7 linked regions of the Homo sapiens genome follow. The protein of the gene in region 6 interacts with the protein of the main gene of each other region in a biochemical or structural test. Each region holds a gene or a part of one and is shown on either strand. Other genes may lie near its edges.

Region 1 (3,500 bases), on a different chromosome or scaffold from region 6:
GTATTACAACAGATAAAATGATTAAGACTAAGAGTTTCCAAATTTATCAGGTTTAGACATCAAGAAAACTTAAGACTCTGTCTTCGCTGCTAAGAAATTTCAAAGTAAATTTGTATAACAAATCAAGTACTTTTGCCATTATGCAAGTGATCACAAGTGAAGACAGTTGATTCTCTGAATAAGCCTGCTCTAGTTCTTCCATTTTATTTCATATAAGAATCAAGAAAGAGCTTAAACTACAAACCAGAGGTTAACTCTTTCTTGAGTAACTGAAAATACAATCTCAACCAAATATGTTTCTTTAAAAATTACCACTACAGGGTATAAAATTAACCTAGTAAGTGACAATACCTAGTGTAAAAATAATGCACAAACAGAATACTGTTTTGGTTAAAATGCAATGCTCTAAAATCTTTCCTTTCAAGAAGTTCTATTTATTGTTTCAAGCAGACTACTATTTGCATTTAGAGCTTCATTTTAAGTTTATGGCCTGAGTTTCTCAGCAGACTTTTTTTTTTTTTTTTTTTTTTGAGATGGAGTCTTGCTCCGTTGCCCAGACTGGAGTGCAGTGGCATGATCTCAACTCACTGTGACCTCTGCCTCCTGGGTTCAAGCCATTCTCCTGCCTCAGCCTCCCAAGTAGCTGGAATTACAGGTGTGCGCCACCATACCCAGCTAATTTTTGTATTTTTAGTAGAGACGGAGTTTCACCATATTGGTCAGGCTGGTCTTGAACTCCCAACCTCAGGTGATCCACCCACCTTGGCCTCCCAAAGTGCTGGGATTACAGGCGTAAGCCACCACACCCAGCCTCAGCAGACATTTTAATGCAATGACTATGAAAAAAAGCTGTGAAACTTCTCCACATGTATAAAAGGAGTTACTTCCATATCATATACATAAAGAAGTAACATAGCAGGCACAGTAGCAATACCAAGGGACACGGTACTGCCTTCTACCAGGAACAGTTCCTCAAATACATACCAGTGGGTTGAAGCTACTAGCACCATTTCTTTTCTAATTGAGTCTCTATATACTGAGAGTTGGGAAACTAAGGGCAATCTAAAATGCACATTGTGGCATTTTGAAAGGTTAAAAGACTGTTTTTGTACTGTAATAATCATTGTCACAGGAAAATTTCTCTAGCCTTTATCAGACTAAATTTATCTCTATACAATTCAAGTGTTAATCCCTCCCATGCCCTACAATATCAGGTTATAAGACCTCACTGGTATTTAATATATGGTCACAGCAACAAAGGCTTAGAATTAACATTAATGTTTGAAATATAAAAGGCCCAGCAAAGTTACGAGGAGAAAAATAAACCAAGTAATACTATGAACATTAATGCATAAGATCTCTTGTATAATGATTATTCTAGACATACTTATGAAACCAATGCTATGGTTCTACTGCATTAGGCACTAGGGCTAGGAGTATGAGGAGCACTAAATTCTTTTTTAGGTTAAATTGTAATAAAAACATGTTATATATGAATCAATATTTTTTCCAAAAGCTGTACCTAGGAAAATACTTACAATTCCATATCCTATCATGCCTGTTGGTGTAGTAGCAGGATAGGCCATTACAGGGGGTGCCTAACATAGTGAAAGGAAAAATGAACAAGAAAGTATAACTCATGTGTGTCAACTGAGTTCAAGGAATTAGTAGCTGTAGTTCCACTAAAAAGAATTGCTAAGACAGCTGTGAGTAAGTGACACTTGTGATCATTAAGAACTGTCGATTAATGGTCAGTGAAAAAAAGTGTTTTGAAATTAGCAGAAAAGCAGACTTATTAGAAGGATAACTATACCACTTAAACTTAGATACAGCAGTGATCTAAGATTTCATCATGCTTTTTACAGCTTTAAAAATCTTTAGATTTAAAAAAGTATCTTAAATAGTTCTAAATAGTTCTAAAATTTAAAGCCTATCACTATCATTAAAAAATGTCTACCCAGAAAAAGTATTATTGAATGTTTTCTTACTTAGGTACCTGATTGCTTTAGCATTCAAAGAAAAAAATGTAAAGATCTCAAATCAATCAATAACCTGATCTTCCAAAAAGTTAGTTTCTAAGGATCTTACTCACTCTTTTCAAAAAACTCCAAAGGTTTCAAACTACTATTGAGTATGACTATTTCTATGAGCCATAGTTCTTATATAGAGTATGTACGTTAGCTTTCTAATTTATTCCAAAAATTATTTAAGAGGAACAATCAATTAGGTCAGTTTATGCTTTCATGTTTAAAAGAACCATCTATCACTATGATGTTTAAGTTCCCCTCTTCCTACTACTTTGATTATCTGTAAACATACAATTTGAGAACAGAATCATTTTAGATATAGTTGCTGTCTTAACAACATTTCCTGTGTGTGTTTCTCATAATGAAAACTGAAATTGAATAAAGGTGAAAGACCAATAACACTGCTAAAACATAAAATAACTGAAATTATATGGCAATTTGAACATATGCATGGAGAAATTAAATGAAATATAACTTTAAAAAAATAACACTAAAGTGAATAGTTATAAGTTTAGTATTCGGGTGAGCGTGTAGGACTTATTGGTCTCTCCCTACTTAAAACCAAGATCTGCAAGAGCAGTAGACAAACTGCCAAGAAGAGCAGAAGCCTGTAAGATTTCATGCAGTTGTTATTTTAAACATTACCACAATCAACATTTCCCTTCATTCAGAAGTCATCAAGTGCATAGTGGCAGCACAGATACACACACAGACACCCAGCCATCTGGCAGCAAATGGCGGAATATTAAGCAAGAAAAAAAATCGGTATTTCCCATGCCACCATCAGAATCAATTCTGCAACACACCCATGAAATCAGTAGATGCTAGGAAGAATTTCTGGCACATTGAAAATCTGAATGTGAAAACAAGTAATAGCTGAAAGGTTATGAGATTCTGCTACAGCAGTGGTTAATAGCATGCCAATTTATTGCAAAAAGGCTCGTTTTTGGTCACTTACGTATTGTGGAAAATGCATGCCATTCTGTTTTTCCCAGGGAGAACAATTACATAATGCAATAACACTGGATTAGAACAAGTACTTACACAACAGAAAATACACAGAGAGCATTTTAGTTCACATGTACATTCACTAACTACCTAAAATCCCTTGTATTTCCAGTATCTAATGAAAGAACATCTATACTAAAACACTATCAAGGTTGACAAGGGAATTGTAGTCTTTGGCCTCATCTCTTTATATAAAAAATAGTTTATTGATTACAAGTACCATTAAAACATCAATTCTATCAACAGTGTCAACAGTGCAAAATTTTGGGCATTGCATAAACAGGGTTGCATCAGATGTCTACCACAGAAAAAAAGCAAGCACTAATTAAAAGAATTTGTAGTATAATATATATTTTAATAAAATTCCAATGAATTTGTGTTAAATTTAAAAAACACTGAAAAACCTTGACAGTGTTTAAGGATTAATAAAAAGGTTAGAAATGTAAAGAAATGTCAAAAGCAGCA
Region 2 (3,500 bases), on a different chromosome or scaffold from region 6:
GAGTGAGGGGAGATACAGGTTAAATGGAGCGGAGCAGTTGCCCCTGACTTCCTGTCTGCTGGAGCTGACCCAGCTGTCCGCCTCGCTGCTTTGCGTGTGGCCATATCCCGGCCTCCTCAGCTACAGAAACCCTGTGTTTGCTCTGTCAATGGCCTTTGAGGGGACAGACGCATTTGAATGAGATCTCTCTGTCCTTCAACCAACTCTTTGGAAATGTTAAAGCAAAATAACCTACCGCTCTGCCAGCGTCCGTCCGTGTGCCCCAGCTCTTTGAAGAACGTTCTTGTCCCTGCCAAGTGCTGCTGTTAGGTGCCACGATAATACAGCACAGGGAGGCTTACGTCTGATTCATTTCAGCGTTGATTTTAAAAATAGAAATTGTTTTATAATTACTTTTACTCTGCAGCTCTAGTGGATAAATTATTAGCTGGAGAAGGAGAGACTCAGTGCCCTGAAGTCGTCCAGTACTTGTCTTTGAAAGAGCTCTTGTCCTTCGAGTGTTCACCCTTCCATTTGCCCAGTGGGGATTTGCTGACAGCCAGATGTTGGTTTGGGCCTAGAGATACAGCAGGAAGGAAGATGTCCCTGTATTCGGGGGTTGGAGGTGGGGACAGAGTATGATCGGTGGACAGACAACTCCGGAGCCTCCTGGGCCACAGGGTGCCGCGGGGTTGGCGTGTGGGGCAGCCGCTGCCTGGAGCCTCCCAGCTCAGTTGCCTGGCTTTGCTGACAGTGCCCATTCCTGCGGTCTGTTTCCATCTGGACTCCACATCAGGCCTGGGCCAGCAGCCTCTCGGGAGCGTCCCCTGCCTCACCCTGATCTCCCCTCTTCTGAGGCAGCACTCACTGAGATGCTCGCTGGGGTGTGCCCCATGAGTCTCAGTCCAGGGACCAGTGCAGCTCTGGGCTGCTCACGAGTCAGCGGGCTCTGTCTGGCCTGATTGTTCCTGGAAGCAGGGCAGGTGTATCCTGAGGGCTTGGGCTCCCCCTGGCCACTGGACTGAGCTGAAGGCCGCAGCCCAGAGGCAGATGCCCTCGCCCCAAGGGATGGGGGTAGTGGGAAGGGCCCTTGGCTCTGCCAGCCCCAAGGCCTTCGTTAACTTGAGATTTGAACAAATCCTGATCCGGAGCCCACTCGCAATTTGGAGGCATGTTAGCAGGCCCTTGGGGAGTGGGGCTCCTGTGGTGGGACGATAAGGATGTCTATGCTGACACACTTCTCCCACACCCAGGCCTAGCCCGCACCCTGAACTGTGAAGGCCATGCAGCCCAGGGCCGCCTGGGAGGGGCCTGAGGGGCTCCATCTCCATCTCTGGTCCATGTCTGGCCCACATCTTTTTGTTATTTATGACCTTGGACAGGTGGTTAACCTGCAGCCTCAATGTCCTCCCTTGCCCACCTGCTCCGAGGTTCCTTGTGAACATTAATGAGGCAACACTGGAACAATGCTGTCTGCTCGGGGGCCCAGTACAAGGCTGAGCTCAATAAAATTGAATTTATTAATAGGTTATTGAGACCTGTCTGCTGGCCTTATGGCATAGAGTATGTTCTTACACACTTGGCGATGCCAGCTATCCTGAGTGTATCTGCAGAGCCTCACCTGCCCCCTGGGCCCCTGGGTGCCCCTGAGCTTTGTCCCCACTCTCTGTCCTTAAAGGTCAGGCCCCTCCTGCTGCCAGCACTGGGCAGGATAAGAGCAGGCTCAGAGAGTTGTGAGCAGGTGGCCCCTGGGGCGTGGGTGTGGACTCCGAGGATTTTTCGAGACCCGAAAAGCTGCAGGGTCTGTGGAACCAGGCAGGAGCTGACCTCACTCTGCTTCTGCCCCTCTCTGCTGTCTCTGCGGACCCTCCAACTCCCTTCTGCAAGGTGTCTCACGGCGCTGTGGAACTCTCTATTATTGTTTTGTTTTGTTTGAGATGGAGTTTAGCTCTGTTGCCCAGGCTGGAGTGCAGTGGCATGATCTTGGTCACTGCAGCCTCCCAGGTTCAAGCGATTCTCTGCCTCAGCTTCCTGAGTAACTGGGATTACAGGCACACACCACCATGCCCGGCTAATTTTTGTATTTTTAGTGGGAGTTTCGCCATGTTGGCCAGGCTGGTCTCAAACTCCTGACCTCAAGTGATCCACCTGCCTCGGTCTCCCAAAGTGCTGGGATTACAGGCATGAGCCACCACACCTGGCCTATTATTTTTACTTTTTAGAGGCAGGTTCTCACTCTGTTACCCAGGCTGCAGTGCAGTGGTGCTATCATGGCTCACTGCAGCCTGGAACTCCTGGACCCAAGCCATTCTCAGCCTTCTAAGTAGCAGGGGACTACAGCCGTGCACCACTACACCCGGCTAAGTTTTAAATTATTTTTGGTAGAGATGGGGTCTTGCTAGGCTGGCCTTGAACTCCTGGGCTCAAGTGATCTCCCACCTCAGCCTCCCAAAGTGCTGGGATTATAGGCGTGCGCCACTGTGCCTGGTCCCCCTCCATTATCACTTCTGTCCTGCTTCCTCCAGAGACCTCCCCTGACCCAGCCAGACACCCCTCCCTGTTGTGCCCAGCAGTGGGAAGAACAGCATCCTCCTCCTCATGCTCTCATGCTGCACATTATCACTGCATCCCCTGCAGAGCCCTGGTCCCACAGCCACTCACAGCTGTGTGGAAACTGCCCTGCCAGGCTGTGTGTGAGGCCCCTGCCTCTTGGGAGCTGGATGGGAGCTGTGGGTGCTGAGTAGCGGACAGACCCCGGGGCGGTCACATGTGTCCTTATGATCTTCCTTTCTCTAGCACTGGGTTTTTCCACCCTGAGCTGAGGTCCATAATCAATCCCTTCCACTCCTCAAAGGCTGCGCTGCCCTGAAGGGGTGTCTCTGGCAGCTGACCAGCCAGCCTCTGGCCTGTGTCAGAGCTGCTGGGGTTGTTCTGCCCGAGGGGCCACATGGGGCACAAATGCAGGCTAGAGAACCCAGGGACAGGCCTGGGCAGCCCTCTACCTCCCATGGCACGCTGCAGTTTCCCCACCTTCAAAATGGGGAGAACTACGTTCACCCCACTCGGCAGCTGTGAGGACAGCATGTTGAGAACCTCAGGACCCAGAACCAAGTATTGCTGGCAGTTGGACCTGCCTCGGGACTGTAAGCCTCAGAGCGGAGCTGCGTCAAGGACACCGTGTGGGTCTCACCACAGAGTGAGCCCGAGTGCCTGCTGCTGCGGCCCTCAGAACCCTGGAGCCACTTCCGCAAGGGAGGGTCAGCAGCAGACGGGAGTAGGTGGGACATCACTGGGACCTGGCGGGCTTCTCCCGGGACAGGGCTTAGCTGCTACTGCCTGGTCAGAGGCGAGGCCCACGGAGCAGCCACAGACTCCCACTGTGCGAGCACTGTGCCTCCTTGTGTGGCGCTCTGAGCCTGGTGCACACATCTGCCCATCCTAGACACAACGGGGCTGTGTTCCCAGAGCCAGCCGGCACCCTGCCCGGGAGGGCCCTGCTGCCACGGATCCTGTCCCCTGCC
Region 3 (3,500 bases), on a different chromosome or scaffold from region 6:
ACAGATAATGGGTCAGTCTTTTCTTTGCTCTCACTACCTTTTTCAGAGAAGTTTTTTGTTTGTTTTTTTGAGACAGAGTCTCGCTCTGTTGCACAGGCTGGAGTGCAGTGGCGCACAATTTCGGCTCACTGCAAGCTCCACCTCCTGGGTTCGAGCAATTCTCCTGCCTCAGCCTGCCGAGTAGCTGGGACTACAGGCGCGTGCCACCATGCCCAGCTAATTTTTCTATTTTGGGTAGAGATGGAGTTTCACCATGTTGGCCAGGCTGGTCGTGAACTCCTGACCTCAAGTGATCTGCCTGCCTTGGCCTCCCAAAGTACTAGGATTACAGGCGTGAGCCACCACGCCTGGCCTTTCAGAGAACTTTTCAAAGGAGCTTTTTCTGCGTCCAGTGAAGGATCCCTGCTCTCAACTGAGACTGCCCCTTGCCTTTCTGGGCTGTTCTAAGCTTAGTGTGAAACTCAGATATGCGTGGCTGAGCCCTGGCCCGCAAGTCGCCAGCCTCTCCACGGCTTTGTTCTTCCTCAGCCTGCTCGGACTTTCAGAGAATGGCGCGTCTGTGCTTCTCCGTCCCACCGTCTACCAGCCTGTGTGGTCCCCAGCTTTTGCCAGCCGTCCATTTCAATTCCCTCACCCAAGCGGCTGGTTGAAAGGGCAGGGCTGGCCCTAGCAGCAGTAGGAAGCGGCCAGCTCTCTTCAGTGTGGAGATTTAGCCAAGTGCTGGAGGATTCTGAGATGGGATTTCAGCGCCCCAGCGTGACCTTCTGCTTCCCCTCCGAACTGAATGGTGACCTAGGCTTGCACAGTTTTCACTAACAAGTCAGCAGCTTGAAAGTTGACCTCTCAAACTCTAGGGGAAAAGTGTGTGAGGAAGTGCTGATTTGGGTCAGTTTGAGCCTGCTGGTTGCATTCCCAGTTGAGAAAGTCCATACGATTTGCCGGCCACCCCGGGAAACTAAGACGATAGAAAACCACCTGTCAGTTCCCCGCTGCTGGAGAGGAAGCCAGAGATGGAGCGAAGGAGTACAGAGAGCCCTTTGTTGTGTCCGGAGCAGTGATGACTGTGTCTTGACGCCTCTCTTCTGGCTCTTGCTCTCATGTAGGTTCATGTGTGCCCAGCTGCCCAACCCCGTCCTGGACAGCATCAGCATCATCGACACCCCCGGGATCCTGTCTGGAGAGAAGCAGCGGATCAGCAGAGGTAAACAGCTGTGACCACAGCTCGGGCTGCTGGTGTTGTCACACATCCTTCTCTCTAAGATCTGCAACTTGGTTCAGATGCTGCCCTTGAGATTTCTCCTTTTTTTTTTTTTTTTTTTTGACGGAGTCTTACTCTGTCACCCAGGCTGGAGTGCAGTGGCGCGATCTCAGCTCACTGCAACCTCTGCCTCCTGGGTTCAAGCGATTCTCCTGCCTCAGCCTCCTGAGTAGCTGGGACTACGGGCATGTGCCACCACGCCCGGCTAATTTTTGTATTTTTCGTAGAGATGGGGTTTCACTATATTGGCCAGGCTGGTCTCGAACTCCTGACCTCATGATCTGCCCGCCTTGGCCTCCCAAAGTGCTGGGATTACAGGCGTGAGCCGCCACACCTGGCTGCCCTCGAGATTTCTTCCAGTCTCAGCCTTTCTAAAAAAAAAAATGTGGCCGGGCACGGTGGCTCACACTTGTAATCCCAGCACTTTGGGAGGCCGAGGTGGGCGGATCACGAGGTCAGGAGATTGAGACCATCCTGGCTAACACAGTGAAACCCCATCTCTACTAAAAAATAGAAAAAATTAGCTGGGCGTGTTGGTGGGCGCCTGTAGTCCCAGCTACTCGGGAGGCTGAGGCAGGAGAATAGCGTGAACCCAGGAGGTAGAGCTTGCAGTGAGCCGAGATCGCGCCACTGCACTGCAGGCTGGGCGACAGCGAGACTCCGTCTCAGAAAAAAAAAAAAAAGTGTCCGAGTAAGAACCCATTTTACATCAGCCTCCCATCTCCACAGTGCTCTGTGCACTGAGAGGGCGGGAGCTGCTTTCTTTCTTGGCTCCCTGGGCCTAGGCAATGGGAGCAGCCATGGTGAGACCACAGCCAATCTTATGTGGCTGTCATGCTTTTGAACCCCTGGGGCATGCTGGAAACAACAGGATCAGAATCGGGCCATGCTGTGAGGGTGCAGGAAGCATTGCTGACTCTGAACAAGCCCCTGGTCCCCAGAGCTTATTAGCTTTAGTCTGTGTTTAACAGCCTTTGCCCCCCAAAGCCATATACATTCCTCACACGTCCAGCAGGACTGAGAGAGAGCCAAGCAAAAGGAGAAGCTGGTAGAAATTCATGAAACGGGCTGGTGGAAATTTGCTTACATTTGCTTAGAGGTTGACAGCAGCCTCCCTGGCTGAGGCCTTCTTGCTATGCAGTAGTGCACCGTGCCCATTCCAATTGTGTAAACTCCTGCCTAGATTCTGCCAAGCTCTTTTGAAGATCTGGTTCAGGATGAGCCTGAACTGGGTCCTCCATCTGTCACTGCCCCTTTTTCACAGACGGGTGGGGCGCTTTGGGGCCTGATGCTTTCTGGGAGGAGCTTGAGGGTAGGCTGGTACCTGGCAGGTGAGGAGTGGAGTCTACAGCTCCAAATGTGAAAATGAAATAAGATCAAACTCAAAGAGGGGTTGAGGACAAGTGAGCAAGTTTGTTGATGATTAACTTGCAGATCCTTCCCGTGTCCCTTACCCTCTGGACTGGCCTTTGCTGGGTGAGCCTTGCAGTCAAAGCCGGCAGCTAGGATTTGGGGTGCACATGTCTCTCTGCTAGGGCTGTGAGGGCATGGGGACTCTGTTCTTGGAGCTGAGAAACCTTGCTTCTCTTTCCTTCCAGCCTTGCGGGCCTTGCCCGTGTGGGACTGCATCAGAGCGTACTGAAATCACTGGCCCTCATCTGGTTTCAGAGCTGCCAGTTAAGCTGTTAGATTCTCCCACCCCTGGTGACAGTGATGCACCTAGGAGTTAAGGGAGTAGATTTGGAGACCCCTTTAAAAAAAAAAAAAAGCGAGGGCTAGTATTTTTATTTCTTACTGCTATTGTTGTTCCAACCTAGTTTTAGTAAATGCCGGATAAGCAAAAGCCCTGTCATTTGCCAAAGCAAGGTCAGAAAATCTGATTAAGTTACTCTTTTATTTTTTTGAGACAGAGTGTCGCTCTATCGCCCAGGCTGGAGTGCAGTGGCATGATCTCGGTTCACTACAACCTCCTCCTCCCTGGTTCAAGCGATCCTCCCACCTTAGCCTCCTGAGTAGCTGGGATTACAGGTGCATGCCACCACGCCTGGCTAATTTTTATATTTTTAGTAGATATGGGGTTTCGCCATGTTGGCCAGGCTGGTCTTGAACTCCTGACCTCAGGTGATCTGCCCGCTTCGGCCTCTCAAAGCATCATCACAGCCTTGAACTCCTGGGCTCAAGTGATCCTTCCACCTTAGTCTCCCGAGTAGCTGGGCCCACAGGCGCGGGCCATCATGCTCGG
Region 4 (3,500 bases), 4.7 Mb from region 6:
CGTAAGTGATTATTACCTAAAAAAACTAAAGTAATAATTAAAAACAACTTATTCTTGTCCAGTTCAAAGTTCTTGGAACAATGTACTTGCAAGTGTAGGAGTCTCAGTAATAAAAGAAAAGCTTAATGTAGAACGTTTATATGAACATGTGTTATGCTTTCTTCAGTTTCTGGAACATTCAAATTCAGTGTTTCTACAGCCAGTTAGTCTACAAACCATTGCAGCAGCACCATCAAACCAGAGTCTGCCACCTTTGCCCAGCAATCATCCAGGTACATGGGACCTTATTATTCGCATCAAATAAGGAAACTTATGAGAATATATGAGTCTGCCAGAGATTCATTGGTAACTGAAAATAGGAGAAATTAGAGATGCTCTTTTGTATTTTTAAGCTAATGAAACAAATTCAGGGCAGATACCATTATGACTGACTTATAAGAGACTGTAAAAATGCTTGTGTTAAACTGAGTATTGTGTTTTGAATGCTAAGGTAAATGAATCTTTAGTTGAGGTTTGGAAACCTTTTTGATACATACAGATTTGTTGAACTTGGGAGTAGCATTGGGACACCAGTCTGTTTTGGTTGTGTTTATTAGGATCTAATATTTGAAGTCTAAATTATAAAAAGAATATCAATTGCGTGTACTCCTCAAAAAGCACAATATGTTTACTGGTCTCTTTTTTTGCCCAAAGCGATGACAAAAAGTGATCTCCAGCCACCTAATTACTACGAGGTAATGGAGTTTGATCCCTTAGCTCCTGCTGTCACTACAGAGTAAGTCATTTACAAAATGATTAATTTATTTTTTGTCTTGGTTCCCTTTGATAGCAGAGCTAACAGGGCTTGGTTATACATTTAACTTTGTTTAGGTCTTGGCAGAAATTGATGGCCTTATTAAAAATGCCTTATGAGGTTTTATGGCAGCTGTTACTCTTAATGGTCTTATCGTTCCGGCCTTGTGACTAAAAAATAAAAATGCTGGGGTTGCATGTTAAGAAATAACTGGAACTAACCTGCTTAATGGACTCCTCATAGATCCCTTGGCAGAAAGTCATGTTCTCTTTAGCTTGAGAAGGGTACTAGTCACTGATTGGTGACATAAGTTTATGCCACATTGATGGAATATTTTAGCTGCTCTTTATGAACTGATCCAAAAAAATCTTATATTAGAACTTGTTTTTAGTCTTCTAAAGCATTAGTACAATTACTTTTTACTTAAAATCCTTAAAGCAACATTCTTTTATGATTTCATATTGGTCAAGATATATAAATATTAATGGAATGGTAAGGTCATAAGAACTTTAATATACTTTGAGTGACTGAAGGTTACCCCCAAATTGTTAAAAATTATTAAAGCACGTTTATTGGAAATCATTGTTCAGAAACTGACAGCCTACAGGCTCTATCTTGCTTGCAGTTGTTTGTTTTTGACCTGTGCAGAATTTAAAATGTGCATTTAAAAAATTAATTGCTGGTTTGGGAAACTCTCAACCATGTTTTTCCTCAGCTCTCACTCTAATATAACAATGAATGCAGAGACTTCTGTGGCCCCCAAATATGTGAGGATTTCTCCCCATCAGCAGGCAAGCAATGAATTCTACAATGGACACCAGCTGGGTGTCCTCTGATTCAATTCCAACACCATCTACCTGGAGATAGTGTCAGACCCCACAGGTTGAGAGCTCAGTCCCCACCACCCCGACACCTACCTTCCCAGACACCAGTCACAAGCCTGGGCCTCTAAACTTAGGACTGACTGGCTTCAAGTTGGGGTTCCCATGACTGCTTCTTTGGGTTTGATTAGTTTGCTGGAGCAGCTCACAGAACTCAGGGAAATACTTATATTTACTGGTTTATTATAAAGGACATTGCAAAGGATGCAGATGAAGAGATGCACAGGGCGAGGCATGCGGAAAAGGCCATGGAGTTTCCGTGCCCTCCCTGGAGTCCCACCCTCCAGGTACCTCCACGTGTTCAGCTATCCAGAAACTGACCTGACCCAACCCCAACCCAGTCCTCTAGGGTTTTTAATGGAAGCTTCTTGATGTCAGCATTCCTTCCCCCAGGGTATAGGGCAGGACCCTCTCTAGGGAGGCTCTTATGACCCACAGTGACAAAGGTGGGCGATTAGAGTGGTGCCTTGGGGCAGGTGAAAGGAGGACTAGAGAAGGTCGAGAGATTCTGCTTCCAGAGGCTGGCTCCTAAGGCCTGACACACCCAACATTATAACAAAAGACTGTAACAAGGGCTATGGGAGTTGTGAGCCAGGAACCTTAGACAAAAACCAGTATGTATCATAAGACCACAGTTGCCAACAGCTGAAAACTCGGATATTTGAAAATAAAAATTCTGGACTTCTAGATCATTTAGATACTCTGTCAACACGAAGCCTGAATTTTTACGTGCTAGCTATGGGCTGGGGTTGAGTAGTAGCTATCTCCTTTACACAGGTAGGCTCTGCAGCCCCTCAGGTCCTGTTACCACCCAAAAAACCCAGGGTTCATTCACCTGGATAGTAACAGATATCTGACTCTCCACAAGGACACAGGTTTTGATCAATAGGAATTTTATTACTTAGCACAAGTAAATTCTTTAGGGGCCAGGATCAGAAAGCGTTCTTCTGTAACTTCTTCATGTTGACCAGGGACACTGTATCCAGAGATGTTAGAGGAGTGAAAATCTCTAGGCACTAAAACTAAATATGTTTTAGGGTCTCCCAGGATAGGTTGCAAAGGCACCTACAGTTGAAATTTTTCTAATCTGGAAGATACAAATTTTACGAAGAGGTTAAAGATGCAGGGACCAAACAACAGTAGTAAGAGCAATAAAATTAGTGGCCTCATTAGGGGAAGAAACCAAGTAACACTTGGTATTGCTAATTTGAGAACTTCTCAAACAGAATTAGAAGTATGGCTATTAGGCCTGATGTGGTGGCTCACCCCTGTAATCCCAGCACTTTGCGAGGCCAAGGCGCGCAGATCACCCTGAATTCAAGATCAGCCTGGGCAACATGGTGAAACCCCGTCTCTACTAAAAATACAAAAATTAGGCAGGTGTGGTGGTGCGCACCTGTAGTCCCAGCTACTCAGGAAGGTGAGGCAGAAAAATCGCTAGAACCCAGGAGGTAGAGGTTGCAGTGAGCCCAGATCGTGCCCCACTGCATTCCAACCTGGGCAACAGAGCGAGACTGTCTCAAAAAAAAAAAAAAAAAAAAAATATGGCTGCTGATTAAAAGTGTGGAACCAAGAGGCTTGGGCATGGACCTTCCTAATGTTAACTTCCTATTTCCCCTGAGGTATTTATTCAGGTACAGCAAGAGGAATTAATAACTGCACACTCTCCTCCTCCCTGTTCTGCTAAGAGGCAGTCTAATGCTATACAATTATCTAGTACCGCATTAGCCAAGGAGTCATATGAGGCCCCAAGTCTGGAACTTCCCCAGGAACTAGGGCCAGCATGGCAGTGCCATGGGCTCAGAACACCTCTATTCTGTCCTGAT
Region 5 (3,500 bases), on a different chromosome or scaffold from region 6:
AAATCCCATAGGCAGCAATTCTTATACTCTAGGTGGCTAATCAAAACAAAGTTCTAGAAAATTCAAGAGGTAAAACTCTAGCACTGAATTCTATATTTGCTCAGTGACAAGAATTCTTTCCATATTTGGCGAGATCCAAGGGGCAGTGCTTCCAGATTCCAGATCAGCTGCTGATTTAAATTTCCTCATCCCAAGTATCAACTTCCTTGCACTCGTCTTGGGCGTCAATAATGAACACGCAGGTCAGAGTTTTCCATAAGGCCTTAACAAGTCTTTCAGCAGGGTGTTCATGGAATTAAACTCTGGGAAGAACGGTAATCTGCTGTTGTACACAGATAAGTACAGAGACATTTTGAAAAGAAATGCTAAGGCCAAGCAAAATGATTTATTTTTAAAGTGCCACATCAGAATCCAATCATAACATTAACCTCAGGGCTGTTACTTTAAACACGTTTGGTAAAAACAATGCTTGTCGAATTTTTGAAAATATAATAACTTTATGCAAAGATCCCGCACTCTTGCATTTAACACATTCCACTTTTTAAATCCTTCTGCCTTGATGATTTAAAATCTCCCTTGCTGGTTTTTTTGTTTTTTAAATTTACCAAGTATTGATACAGAATCAGCACTGAAGACAGGACCCTTCTGCTACCTCCACATTCACATTCCCCCCAAGGCCATTCATTCAGATCGTCAGCCAGCAGTGAGTTTCTCATCTCCATGCTCTTTGGGTTTCATCGGGTTTTATTGGGTCTTTTTTTTTTTTTTTTTAATTTTGACAGTGTGCACATGATGCTCACCTTTGAGGAAGAAGAAACTGTTGAAACAACACTTTAGAATCTGTCAACACAATTAGTTTGTGTCTCAATTTGAGGTAGATGTCCCAAGACATTGCTCCAAGTTAAAAAGAAAAAAAAAGTATGTGGTTTTGCATTGCGTAGTCCTCTTTGGATCCATACGATATGTGTGCCTTCCCTGACCTTCCAGAGAGCATCAAAAACATGAAGGTTGAATCCAGAGAGCACAGCCCACTTTTATCTTTGGCCCAGGGAGGCACTTGGTACTCTGTATTTCTTCGTGGCATCCTTAAAATAGCCTCTGTGGAAAAGGGATTGGCCTTATCTTCCGTGCAACGGATGGGAGGCATAGATATAGCTGCTGGCAAGGGGAAGTGGAAAGAGGCCCATCTGGGAGAGGGTGGCCCGGAGCTTTAGTTTGATGCTGCAGGACTTCCCCAGGTGAACGCACCTCTCCTGGCCCTAGCTCCCTTATAGGAAAATGGAGGTGGTCAGCTCCGCCTTCTCCACAGTGACCATCTGCTGACTGTGCTGCTGCCAGGACGCAGGGGGAGCTAACAGCAGTGCCCCTATCGGATCTTCAAACCGGGGAGGGGTCTCGTGCAGTGGGCAGGGGAAATGGGCTCCCACCTGGCTTTTGGGGTTCACTCCCTGGCTGTTCTACTTCCTGGCCATTTCACCTTTGGCAAGCCACAGCCTCACAGGAGATAGGCTTTTCCATCGGTGAAATGGGTAGAGTGATAGTTCCTACTTCACAGGGTTATAGTGAGATTCACCAAGTCGCAAGAGCCCAGAACTGTATATGGCACACATAAGCTCCTCAATCAAAGTTAGTTAATTTTACTATTCATTCAAGCCAAATACATTTTTCTTCTAAGACTAAAATCAGGGAATCTATGAAAAGCATTTCCCCCTACCTTTTTTTTTTCAATTTCTACAACAGTTTGTGAATTGAATTTTGTTTTCAATTAGCCAATTTGTCCATTTTCCTGTGATGAACATGTTTTTATCTCTTCATTATAAAGTAAGAACTCTGACAGACACAGTGAGCTCCCAATTATTCACGAGCACCTGATCTGCATTGGAGATTGCTTAAAACAGGGCTGGGAAATGCTTGCTGGTGAGTTCACCGGACACTGCACAGCAGGTCCTGGAAGGAGACATTCAGGGCGTTGTTAACTTCTGTGTCTCCCTATTCTTCTTATTCTCCTTCCATACTCTTTCTCTCTCATTGCAATCGCTATCCACCTGGAAGGCGGCTTGAAAAACACAAAAGACAACAAGGATGATGAGGGGGACCCCTCCTGAGCCTCTTAAATGCTGAGGGATCCTTCCTGGACCTGTTTTTATTCATTCCAAGCTGCCTCTCCTAGACAATCACTTCTCTTACCCCAGGAAATCTGGGACGGTGCAGGTTTGCAAGCTTGATCTGGAATAAAGAAACAAAGGAAAAGACGGACCAGGAGGCTTGGCCTACGCCAGGCAAAAGTCAGCAAAAGCAGCCACTACACATCTCCTTTTGAGTTCTAACTTTTCACTTTGTCTTGTGTGAACTCCTAAACTGGAAGCATATTTATAGTCACGTAAAAATAAGAATATTGTCCAAGGCCAAATGTAAGTGACTTTTATGAGTTATTGGACTTTGTGAATTACTCATTCTACCAACCTGAATTAACATAGATAGTTTTGTTGACTTTACCTTCTTTGTAAGCCAAACAGTATGAACTCGGTTAAGCCGGTCTTAGGAGAAAAGACATAAAATGTGTGTTGCTAGGATAGCATTCTAGTGAAGGAAGCCACTTCTTTGTTTCTTGTGCATCCCTGTGAGGGTACCTCTGTCCATCCCAAGAGCTGTTTTCATGGACTCACTGTTGAAAGCCCAAGCCTATTGTAACCAATTTTGATAAGCTGGTTACAAAATAAGCACATGTATACATTTTTTAAAGCCTTGTTCTTCTGGAGATGGAAAACATCTTTTTTTAGATCACATGTTTACTGCTTTGGTAAACAGTAAAATGCTGCTACAGCAATTACCTTGAGGATAAAGGGTTTGTAGACAGATACTTCCTGCGTTCACTTCCTACACAGATAGCCAGCCCAACCAGAGACGCACTGATGCAGGAAGGGCTCCCAGTGGAAACTTCCTCTCTCCGAATGCGTGGTCCATTATTCGTTATCTCCTCTCCAAGGGGAATAAGCTTGTTGCTCCAGATTTTCTAGGAGAATTCTGTCTTGAAACAGGTAAAAATATAAAGTTTCTAAAGTAATGATTACAGTACCTCGTTCTCATCCTCGGTGTCATCTACTCGGTGATTTTTAAGGGGACGTGATTAGACTAGAATAGACTTGTCTATGAGTAACATGCCCCGTAGGCACCTCTGTCTCCTTTGAATCATGGAAAATGATGCATAATTCGAATGTTTTTATATTTGGTAGAAAAATAAGTCTCTTTGAGATTCAATGGAAGGCCTTTTCTATGGTTAGTTGAAAGGTCATTTTAGATTTTGCTTTCTTTAGTCAAGCAGAGATTACCAGATTTGGGTACAAAAAATATCAGCTCACAGATTGTTCTCTGTGCTGATTTTACAGCAGTTACTAAATTCCAACGAATGCATTGTTTAGGCCCTTTGAACCGAAGCAAATAAAACCACAGTGCACACACACTAAACAATAGGGCATCATCAATTAGCCATCTACAGGATG
Region 6 (3,500 bases):
TTGGACCTACAGCAAATGAATGTGAATATATGAAGATTTCTCTTTTCCTAGACTGTTTAGACTGATAGCAGTTAATAAATGAGTGCCTATTTGAGCAAGATACTGTTGGAATTGAAGATTCTATAAAAATCCTAGGCTACATATATAAAATATTGCCTGTGATTCTTAATTTTTTGGTGATTTTCAATTTTCTGGCACATTAAGTATCTTTAGGCCACTTGACACATTCCATTGTATTCCTAGATTCTTTGGGTCTTCAATTAAAAATCTCCCTACCCTGTTCTTTCCCCTTTGATCCATAGATGCAGGCATGGAATGTGTTGTTGAGTCAAATGTTAGGGGTTCTTGCTATAGTTAGTTCGGATTGTGAATAGAAAGCAATGCTAAGTACTGGGATTTACTACATGCTTAGTTGTACTCTCTGGAAGAGGTAGACTTCCTGGAATTATGCGGCAGTCTCCTGGGAATAGCTTCTAAGTTTAAAATGTATCATATTCTTCAGAATTTTCTTGATGGTCAGTTTACCCAGCTTAAAGTGTGTGGTTAATTTTAGTGAAAGTGCTTTCACTCTGATTAGGAAATAAGACACAGAATGGTGTGTATGTAGAACACAATCATTTTCATTTGAGTATTTAGGAAAATTCACATTTCAGGAACCATGGTAGTTGCTCTTGAACAATTGTTTCTGACCATAATTGGAATTTGTACCTTGCTTTTAAAAGATTCCATTTATATCGAATCCTCAGCTTCTTTGCAAAATTGTTTTTTCCATACATATGTTTATATGTTATTCAAATTATATTTAACAAGGTGTTTTCCCTGTCATTGTTACCGTTGTGGCTTTTTCTCTTTGAGTTATTGTCCAGTAGAACTTTCTTCAATGATGGAACTGTCTACCAGCTACATAGGGATATTGAGCACTTGAAATGTGGCTGATGTGACTGAAAAACTAAATTTTTGCTTTAATTTCTTTTTAATTTAAATGTAAATAGCCACATGTGACAATTGACTCCTACATTGGACTGCACAATTATAGGCCATGCTGATGTGTTTTGTAAGTTTGAAGATTTATCTCACCACTCATGTTTATGTATTTAGAATATTTCGTTAGCTAAAATTAAAACACTCATTGTTCAAAAGTTTTAACTGAATACTGTCTGTCTTGGAAAGTGGTGGTGATGAACAATGACTAGCAGCAGACTTCTTGAGACCTTATTATGTGCTGTAAATTTGGCTAGGTACTTTCAGATCTTCACTCAATCCCCCCAGACACCTTTCTAAAAAGTGAGACTCATAAAGTAGTGGGAATGCTGTCCGAATGGGATGTGTACCTGAGTCTTCTGACACAAAATATTTCAAAGAAATTGGATAATTGACCTTAAAAAAAGAAGTTATACAGTATCCTAGAGTGCTTTTTGTCTGTTGGACTTAGGCCCAGAGAGGTGAGTTCTCTCTACTTGTTTATAGATTAACAATGTGGTATAGTAGACAGAACAGGGAGGGCTTTAGGGGTTGTTGAAACAAATGCTGTCCAATAGAAAAATAATATGAGCCACATACTTTTTTTTTTTTTTTTTTTTTTTTTGAGACAGAGTCTCACTCTGTCCTCTGTCACCTAGACTAGTGTGCAGTGGTGCGATCTCGGCTCACAGCAACCTCCACCTGCCAGGTTCAAGTGATTCTCCTGCCTCAGCCTCCCAAGTAGCTGGGATTTTAGGTGTCTGCCACCATGCCTGGCTAATTTTTCCATTTTTAGTAGAGATGGGGTTTTACCATGTTGGCCAGGCTGGTCTTCAACTCCTGACTTCAAATGATCTGCCCACCTCGACCTCCCAAAGTGCTGGGATTATAGGCATGAGCTGCTGCTCCTGGCCTCATATAAATAATTTTTTAAGTTTTCTAGCAGCCATATTAAAAGTGAAAAAACATAAAATTAATTAATTTTGGGTTTTTTTGGTAGAGACAGAGTCTTGCTATATTGCTCAGGCTGGTCTCAAATTATTGGGCTCAAGTGATCTGCTCGCCTTGGCCTCCCAAAGTGCTGGGATTACAGGCGTGAGTCACCATGCCATGCCCAGATAAAATTAAATTTAATATATTTTATTTAACTTGGGATATGCAAAATATTATTTCAATATGTAATCAGTATAAAATTTACTAATGAGATACCTTACATTCTTTTTCATACTAAATTTTCTAAATCTAGTGTGTGTGGTTTTTTTTTCTTTTTTTTTGAGACAAAGTCTCACTCTGTCGCCAGGCTGGAGTGCAATGGTGGATCTCGGCTCATTGCAACCTCCGCCTTCCAGGTTCAAGTGATTCTTCTGCCTCTGCCTCCCGAGTCGCTGGGACTACAGGCGCGTGCTACCACGCCCAGCTATTTTTTTTTTATTTTTATTTTTTGGTATTTTTAGTAAAGATGGGGTTTCACCATGTTGGTCAGGATGGTCTCAATCTCTTGACCTCGTGAAATGCCTGCCTCGGCCTCCCGAAGTGTTAGGATTACAGGTGTGAGCCACCGTGCCCGGCTATGTATATTTTGTACTTAGAGCATATATCAATTCAGACCCTATTTTCTTTGGAAATCCTGGTCCGTATTTAGAGTTCATAAAATTTACAGTTAGAAAGGCAGATTTGGGGCTGGGGGTAGTGGCTCATGCCTGTAAACTCAGCACTTTGTGAGCCAAGGTAGGAGCATTGTTTGAGCCCAGGAATTCAAGACCAGCCTGGGTAACAGAGTTAAGACCTCGTCTCTATATTAAACAAACAAAAATGAAGAAAAAGGAAAGCAGATATGCAATACTTCAGTGATCCCAAACATACTTAAGTTTTCCAGTAATTGAATCACTTACTGGTTATTATTTAATTTTAATTACTTTAAAATTACGGTAACCACATTTCAAGTGCTCATTATGGTATGTAGGTTGTGACTTGTGGTTACCATATTGGACAACACAGGTTAAGTCTAACCTCTTGCTTTTTTTTCTCTGGGAAATGGGCATACTTATCTCACAAAGTTATTATGAGGATCTGAGATCATGTATGTGAAAGTACTTTACGTAGCATTTTAGGAGCATTAATTATTGGCTAAATAATTTTTGTCCAGTACATTTTATTCAGGTATCTCAACCAATGACACAATATTCATTTACAGATCCAGTGTTTTATGGTGTATAAGTATTTGGGGTTAACACATTTACCTAAGATTTGAGTACTTACTGCAGATGAGGAACTGTGTTAGACTCTAGGGACAAGGTGGTAAACAAGATGGACTACACCTTGCATTCATGCTTCCATTGATGAGTTGGCAAAGGCTGTACACTTGTTATTCCAACCATTGATGTTGTCTACTTGATTGTGGATCTTTTATGTGTTCGAACATTTGATATTGTGCACAGTTTAATACAAATATTGATATGATACAAAGTTGATTACACTCTGAAACTGCCCCCCAAAAAGAAACTTTTAAATAAATCTTTTATTATGTTCCACGAGTCTCA
Region 7 (3,500 bases), about 16 Mb from region 6:
TATACACGTATATATATACATATATATACACACATATATATGTGTGTGTGTGTGTATATATATATATATATATATATATATATATATATATATATATTTTTTTTTTTTTTTTTTTTTTTTTTTTTTACTTTTTTTATTTTTGGAGACATGTCCTCATTCTGTTGCCCAGGCTGGAGTGCAGTGGCATGATCATGGCTAACTGCAACTGCAGTCTCAAACTCCTGGGCTCAAACAATCTTTCCACTTCAGCCACCCGAGTAGCTGGGACCACAGACACATGCCACCATGACCAGCTTTTTTTTTTTTTGTAGACACAAGGTCTTGCTATGTTGCCCAGACTGGTCTAGAACTCTGGGGCTCAAGCAAATCCTCCCACCTCAGCCTCCCAAAGTGCCGGAATTACAGATATGAGCCACTGAGTCAAGCCTAGAACTGTATATTTTTAATTTTTTTTAATAGAGATGGGGTCTCACTTATGTTGACCAGGCTGGTCTCGAACTCCTGGCCTCAAGCGATTTTCCCATCTTGGCCTCCCAAAGTGCTGGGATTACAGGTGTCAGCCACCATGCCCAGCCTTAGAACTGTATATTTTTAAAAATGGAATAGGCTGCCCTGTGAAGCAATGAGCTCCCATCACTAGAGGGAACCAAGCAGAAGCTGAGAAATTATGGAGATAATTAATACATGAGGTGGAGGGTAGGAAGACAATTCTAACCCTGAGAGAATGTGAAACCAAAAATCCAATAGCTTCTCCATATGCAAAGATGCTCAACTCTGCTTATAAAAGACATTCAGGCCAGGCGCAGTGGCTCACGCCTGTAATCCCAGCACTTTGGGAGGTCGAGGCTGACAGATCACGAGGTAAAGAGATCGAGACCGGCAGATCACGAGGTCAAGAGATCGAGACCATCCTGGCCAACATGATGAAACCCTGTCTCTACTAAAAATACAAAAAAATTAGCTGAGAGTGCTGGTGGGCGCCTGTAGTCCCAGCTACTTGGGAGACTGAGGCAGGAGAATCACTTGAACCCAGGAGGCAGAGGTTGCAGTGAGCCGAGATCGTGCCACTGCACTCCAGCCTGGGCAACAGAGCAAGAAGACTCTGCCTCAAAAAAAAAAAAAACAAAACAAAACAAAACAAAAAAAACTGTAAAATTTATATAGGAGATAGGAAAAAATCTTTGTGACTTTGGGTTACATTTCTTTTCTTTTTTTTTTTTTGAGACGGAGTCTTGCTCTGTCGTCCATGCTGGAGTGCAGTGGCACGATCTCGACTCACTGTAAGCTCCGCCTCCCGGGTTCGCGCCATTCTCCTGCCTCAGCCTCCCGAGTAGCTGGGACTGCAGGCGCCCGCCACCACGCCCAGCTAATTTTTAGTAGAGACGGGGTTTCACCATGTTAGCCAGGATGGTCTCGATCTCCTGACTTCGTGATCCGCCCACCTCGGCCTCCCAAAATGCTGGGATTACAGGCGTGAGCCACTGCGCCCGGCCTACTGTGGATTACATTTCTTAGATTCAGTACCAAAAGCATAATCCACAAAAGGAAAAATTAATAAATTGGAACTGAGTGGCTAGGGAATGGTTGGGAGCAGGAAGAATTTTTACTATATATACTTTTTAAAAAAATTCTTTTTTATACTTTTTTCTGCCCTTGAATACATATACTTTTGTGCCTTTTGATTTTCAAACCATGTGAATGTATCCAATATGTCTTTAAAAGATCAGCAACTTCAGGCTGGACACGGTGGCTCATGCCTGTAATCCCAGCACTTTGGGAGGCCGAAGCAGGCGGATCATCTGGGGTCAGGAGTTCGACATCAGCATGGCCAACATGGCGAAACCCCGGCTCTACTAAAAATACAAAAATTAGCCGGGCACGGTAGTGTGCACCTATATTCCCAGCTACTCCGGAGGCTGAGGCAGGAGAATTGCTTGAACTCGGGAGGCGGAGATTGCAGTAAGTTGAGACCACACCACTGCACTCCAGCCTTGGGCAATAGAGCAAAACTCTGTCTCAAAAAAAAAAAAAAAAAAAAAAAGCCAATCGCAAAAGGACAAATGTTGTATGATTCCTCTTATATGAGGTTTCTAGAATAGTCAAAATCACAGAGACAGAAAGTAGAAAGATGGTTGCCGGGGGTGGGAGCAGGGGGGAAATGGGGAGTTAAATGTTTAATGGTGACAGAGTTTCAGTTTGGGAAACTAAGAAAGTTCTGGAGATGGATAGTGATGAGGGTTGCACAACAATGCAAATGTACTTAATGCCACAGAACTGGTTACAATGGAAAATGTTATACTATGTATTTTTTTCCTTAATTTTAAAAATCGGCAACTTCTGGCCACCTGTAATTCCAGCACTTTGGGAGGCCGAGGCAGGCAGATCCCTTGAGCACAGGAGTTTGAGACCAGCCTGGGCAACAGGGCAAGAACCGTCTCTGTAAAAAATACAAAAATTAGCCAGGTGTGGTGGCATGTGCCTGTGGTCCCAGCTACTCAGGGGGTAAGGTGGAAGGATCACCTGAGCCCAGAAGATCAAGGCTGCCGTAAGCCGTAATCACACCACTGCACTCCAACATGGGCTACAGAGCAAGTTCTGTCTCAAAAAAAAAAAAAAAAATCAGCAGCTCCTGATTCTGATTTTGCAATAGGCTCTGCCTTATAGCTAAGCAACATTCCCTACTTGGCTTTCACGTCAACATAATGAAGGTTTACGCTCTTTCAGTACACCTGAGTCTTTGTCCAGCATACATCTTTTTTAAGTGTTTCCCAGTATTTTTCTATTCACCTCCCTACCAAGCAAGACTGGTACCATGAACCCCTTTTTCAAGAAGCCCTTGAAGTTATGAAAATTGGGTTCATTTAATTATAGTACACTAAAATTTATGGTTCCTCAAATACCACTCTAAGCCTTTCAAGGTTCTTCTCTCTGACACCCCTCACCCCTCTCCCATCACTTCTGGCCTTGGGAGCTAGAGAAACCCAAAGCAAGCAGTGTGTGGTTTGCTCCTCCTTACGCAGGCCATCAGTGTCTAAATCTGGCCCTTAACCTACTTGTCATGCCATGTGACCCATACTGTTTACTACCGTCTCAGTGGCCACAGGCAAAGCTTATTATTACACAAACCCCTGATCACCAAACCACACATTCTGGCTGGCGGGTCTGCTCGGAAGAAAAGCATTCCTGTTTCAGCCATGGCCTACCCTCTAGTTCACCTGTGCTGCTATAAACAAACCCAGGCCTGCTTGGAAACGGGCTTTAAACAATATTTTTAAATCCTATCATTTGGGTAAAGAAAGACACCATCGTAAAAACAACACTAACACAATAGTAAGATAAGAAATATTGACACATATTTACCAACCAGTGCCACGCCTGACCCAGAACCTTCTCACTTGAACACCAGGAATGGACTTAAAGGCTTTATGGCGTTCAGGCTTAGACTGCTAAGGTACGAGTTCAACCTGATTCATCAGATTAAGCTAAATACATACAGCCTT

What was found.
Region 1: the proteins of CLTC (region 6) and PICALM form a complex in vitro, tested with the Homo sapiens proteins (one study listed by BioGRID).
Region 2: the proteins of CLTC (region 6) and HIP1R form a complex in vitro, tested with the Homo sapiens proteins (one study listed by BioGRID).
Region 3: the proteins of CLTC (region 6) and EHD1 form a complex in vitro, tested with the Homo sapiens proteins (one study listed by BioGRID).
Region 4: the proteins of CLTC (region 6) and TOM1L1 form a complex in vitro, tested with the Homo sapiens proteins (2 studies listed by BioGRID and IntAct).
Region 5: the proteins of CLTC (region 6) and ERG form a complex in vitro, tested with the Homo sapiens proteins (one large-scale study listed by BioGRID).
Region 7: the proteins of CLTC (region 6) and TMEM94 interact in a surface display test, tested with the Homo sapiens proteins (one large-scale study listed by IntAct).

Annotation. Positions count from the first base shown.
Region 1 is NC_000011.10:85,975,085-85,978,584, forward strand, and holds part of PICALM (phosphatidylinositol-binding clathrin assembly protein), read right to left. Parts: intron 3,010-3,500; coding exon of another isoform or gene 2,986-3,009; intron 1,599-2,985; coding exon 1,539-1,598; intron 1-1,538. UniProt on the Homo sapiens protein: Cytoplasmic adapter protein that plays a critical role in clathrin-mediated endocytosis which is important in processes such as internalization of cell receptors, synaptic transmission or removal of apoptotic cells.
Region 2 is NC_000012.12:122,841,957-122,845,456, forward strand, and holds part of HIP1R (huntingtin-interacting protein 1-related protein), read left to right. Parts: intron 1-3,500. UniProt on the Homo sapiens protein: Component of clathrin-coated pits and vesicles, that may link the endocytic machinery to the actin cytoskeleton. Binds 3-phosphoinositides (via ENTH domain).
Region 3 is NC_000011.10:64,872,122-64,875,621, reverse strand, and holds part of EHD1 (EH domain-containing protein 1), read left to right. Parts: intron 1-1,103; coding exon 1,104-1,201; intron 1,202-3,500. UniProt on the Homo sapiens protein: ATP- and membrane-binding protein that controls membrane reorganization/tubulation upon ATP hydrolysis. In vitro causes vesiculation of endocytic membranes. Acts in early endocytic membrane fusion and membrane trafficking of recycling endosomes.
Region 4 is NC_000017.11:54,949,352-54,952,851, forward strand, and holds part of TOM1L1 (TOM1-like protein 1), read left to right. Parts: intron 1-166; coding exon 167-272; intron 273-693; coding exon 694-775; intron 776-2,550; exon of another isoform or gene 2,551-3,500. UniProt on the Homo sapiens protein: Probable adapter protein involved in signaling pathways. Interacts with the SH2 and SH3 domains of various signaling proteins when it is phosphorylated. May promote FYN activation, possibly by disrupting intramolecular SH3-dependent interactions.
Region 5 is NC_000021.9:38,488,478-38,491,977, reverse strand, and holds part of ERG (transcriptional regulator ERG), read left to right. Parts: intron 1-3,500. UniProt on the Homo sapiens protein: Transcriptional regulator. May participate in transcriptional regulation through the recruitment of SETDB1 histone methyltransferase and subsequent modification of local chromatin structure.
Region 6 is NC_000017.11:59,622,895-59,626,394, forward strand, and holds part of CLTC (clathrin heavy chain 1), read left to right. Parts: intron 1-3,500. UniProt on the Homo sapiens protein: Clathrin is the major protein of the polyhedral coat of coated pits and vesicles. Two different adapter protein complexes link the clathrin lattice either to the plasma membrane or to the trans-Golgi network.
Region 7 is NC_000017.11:75,459,635-75,463,134, reverse strand, and holds part of TMEM94 (transmembrane protein 94), read right to left. Parts: intron 1-3,500. UniProt on the Homo sapiens protein: Could function in the uptake of Mg(2+) from the cytosol into the endoplasmic reticulum and regulate intracellular Mg(2+) homeostasis.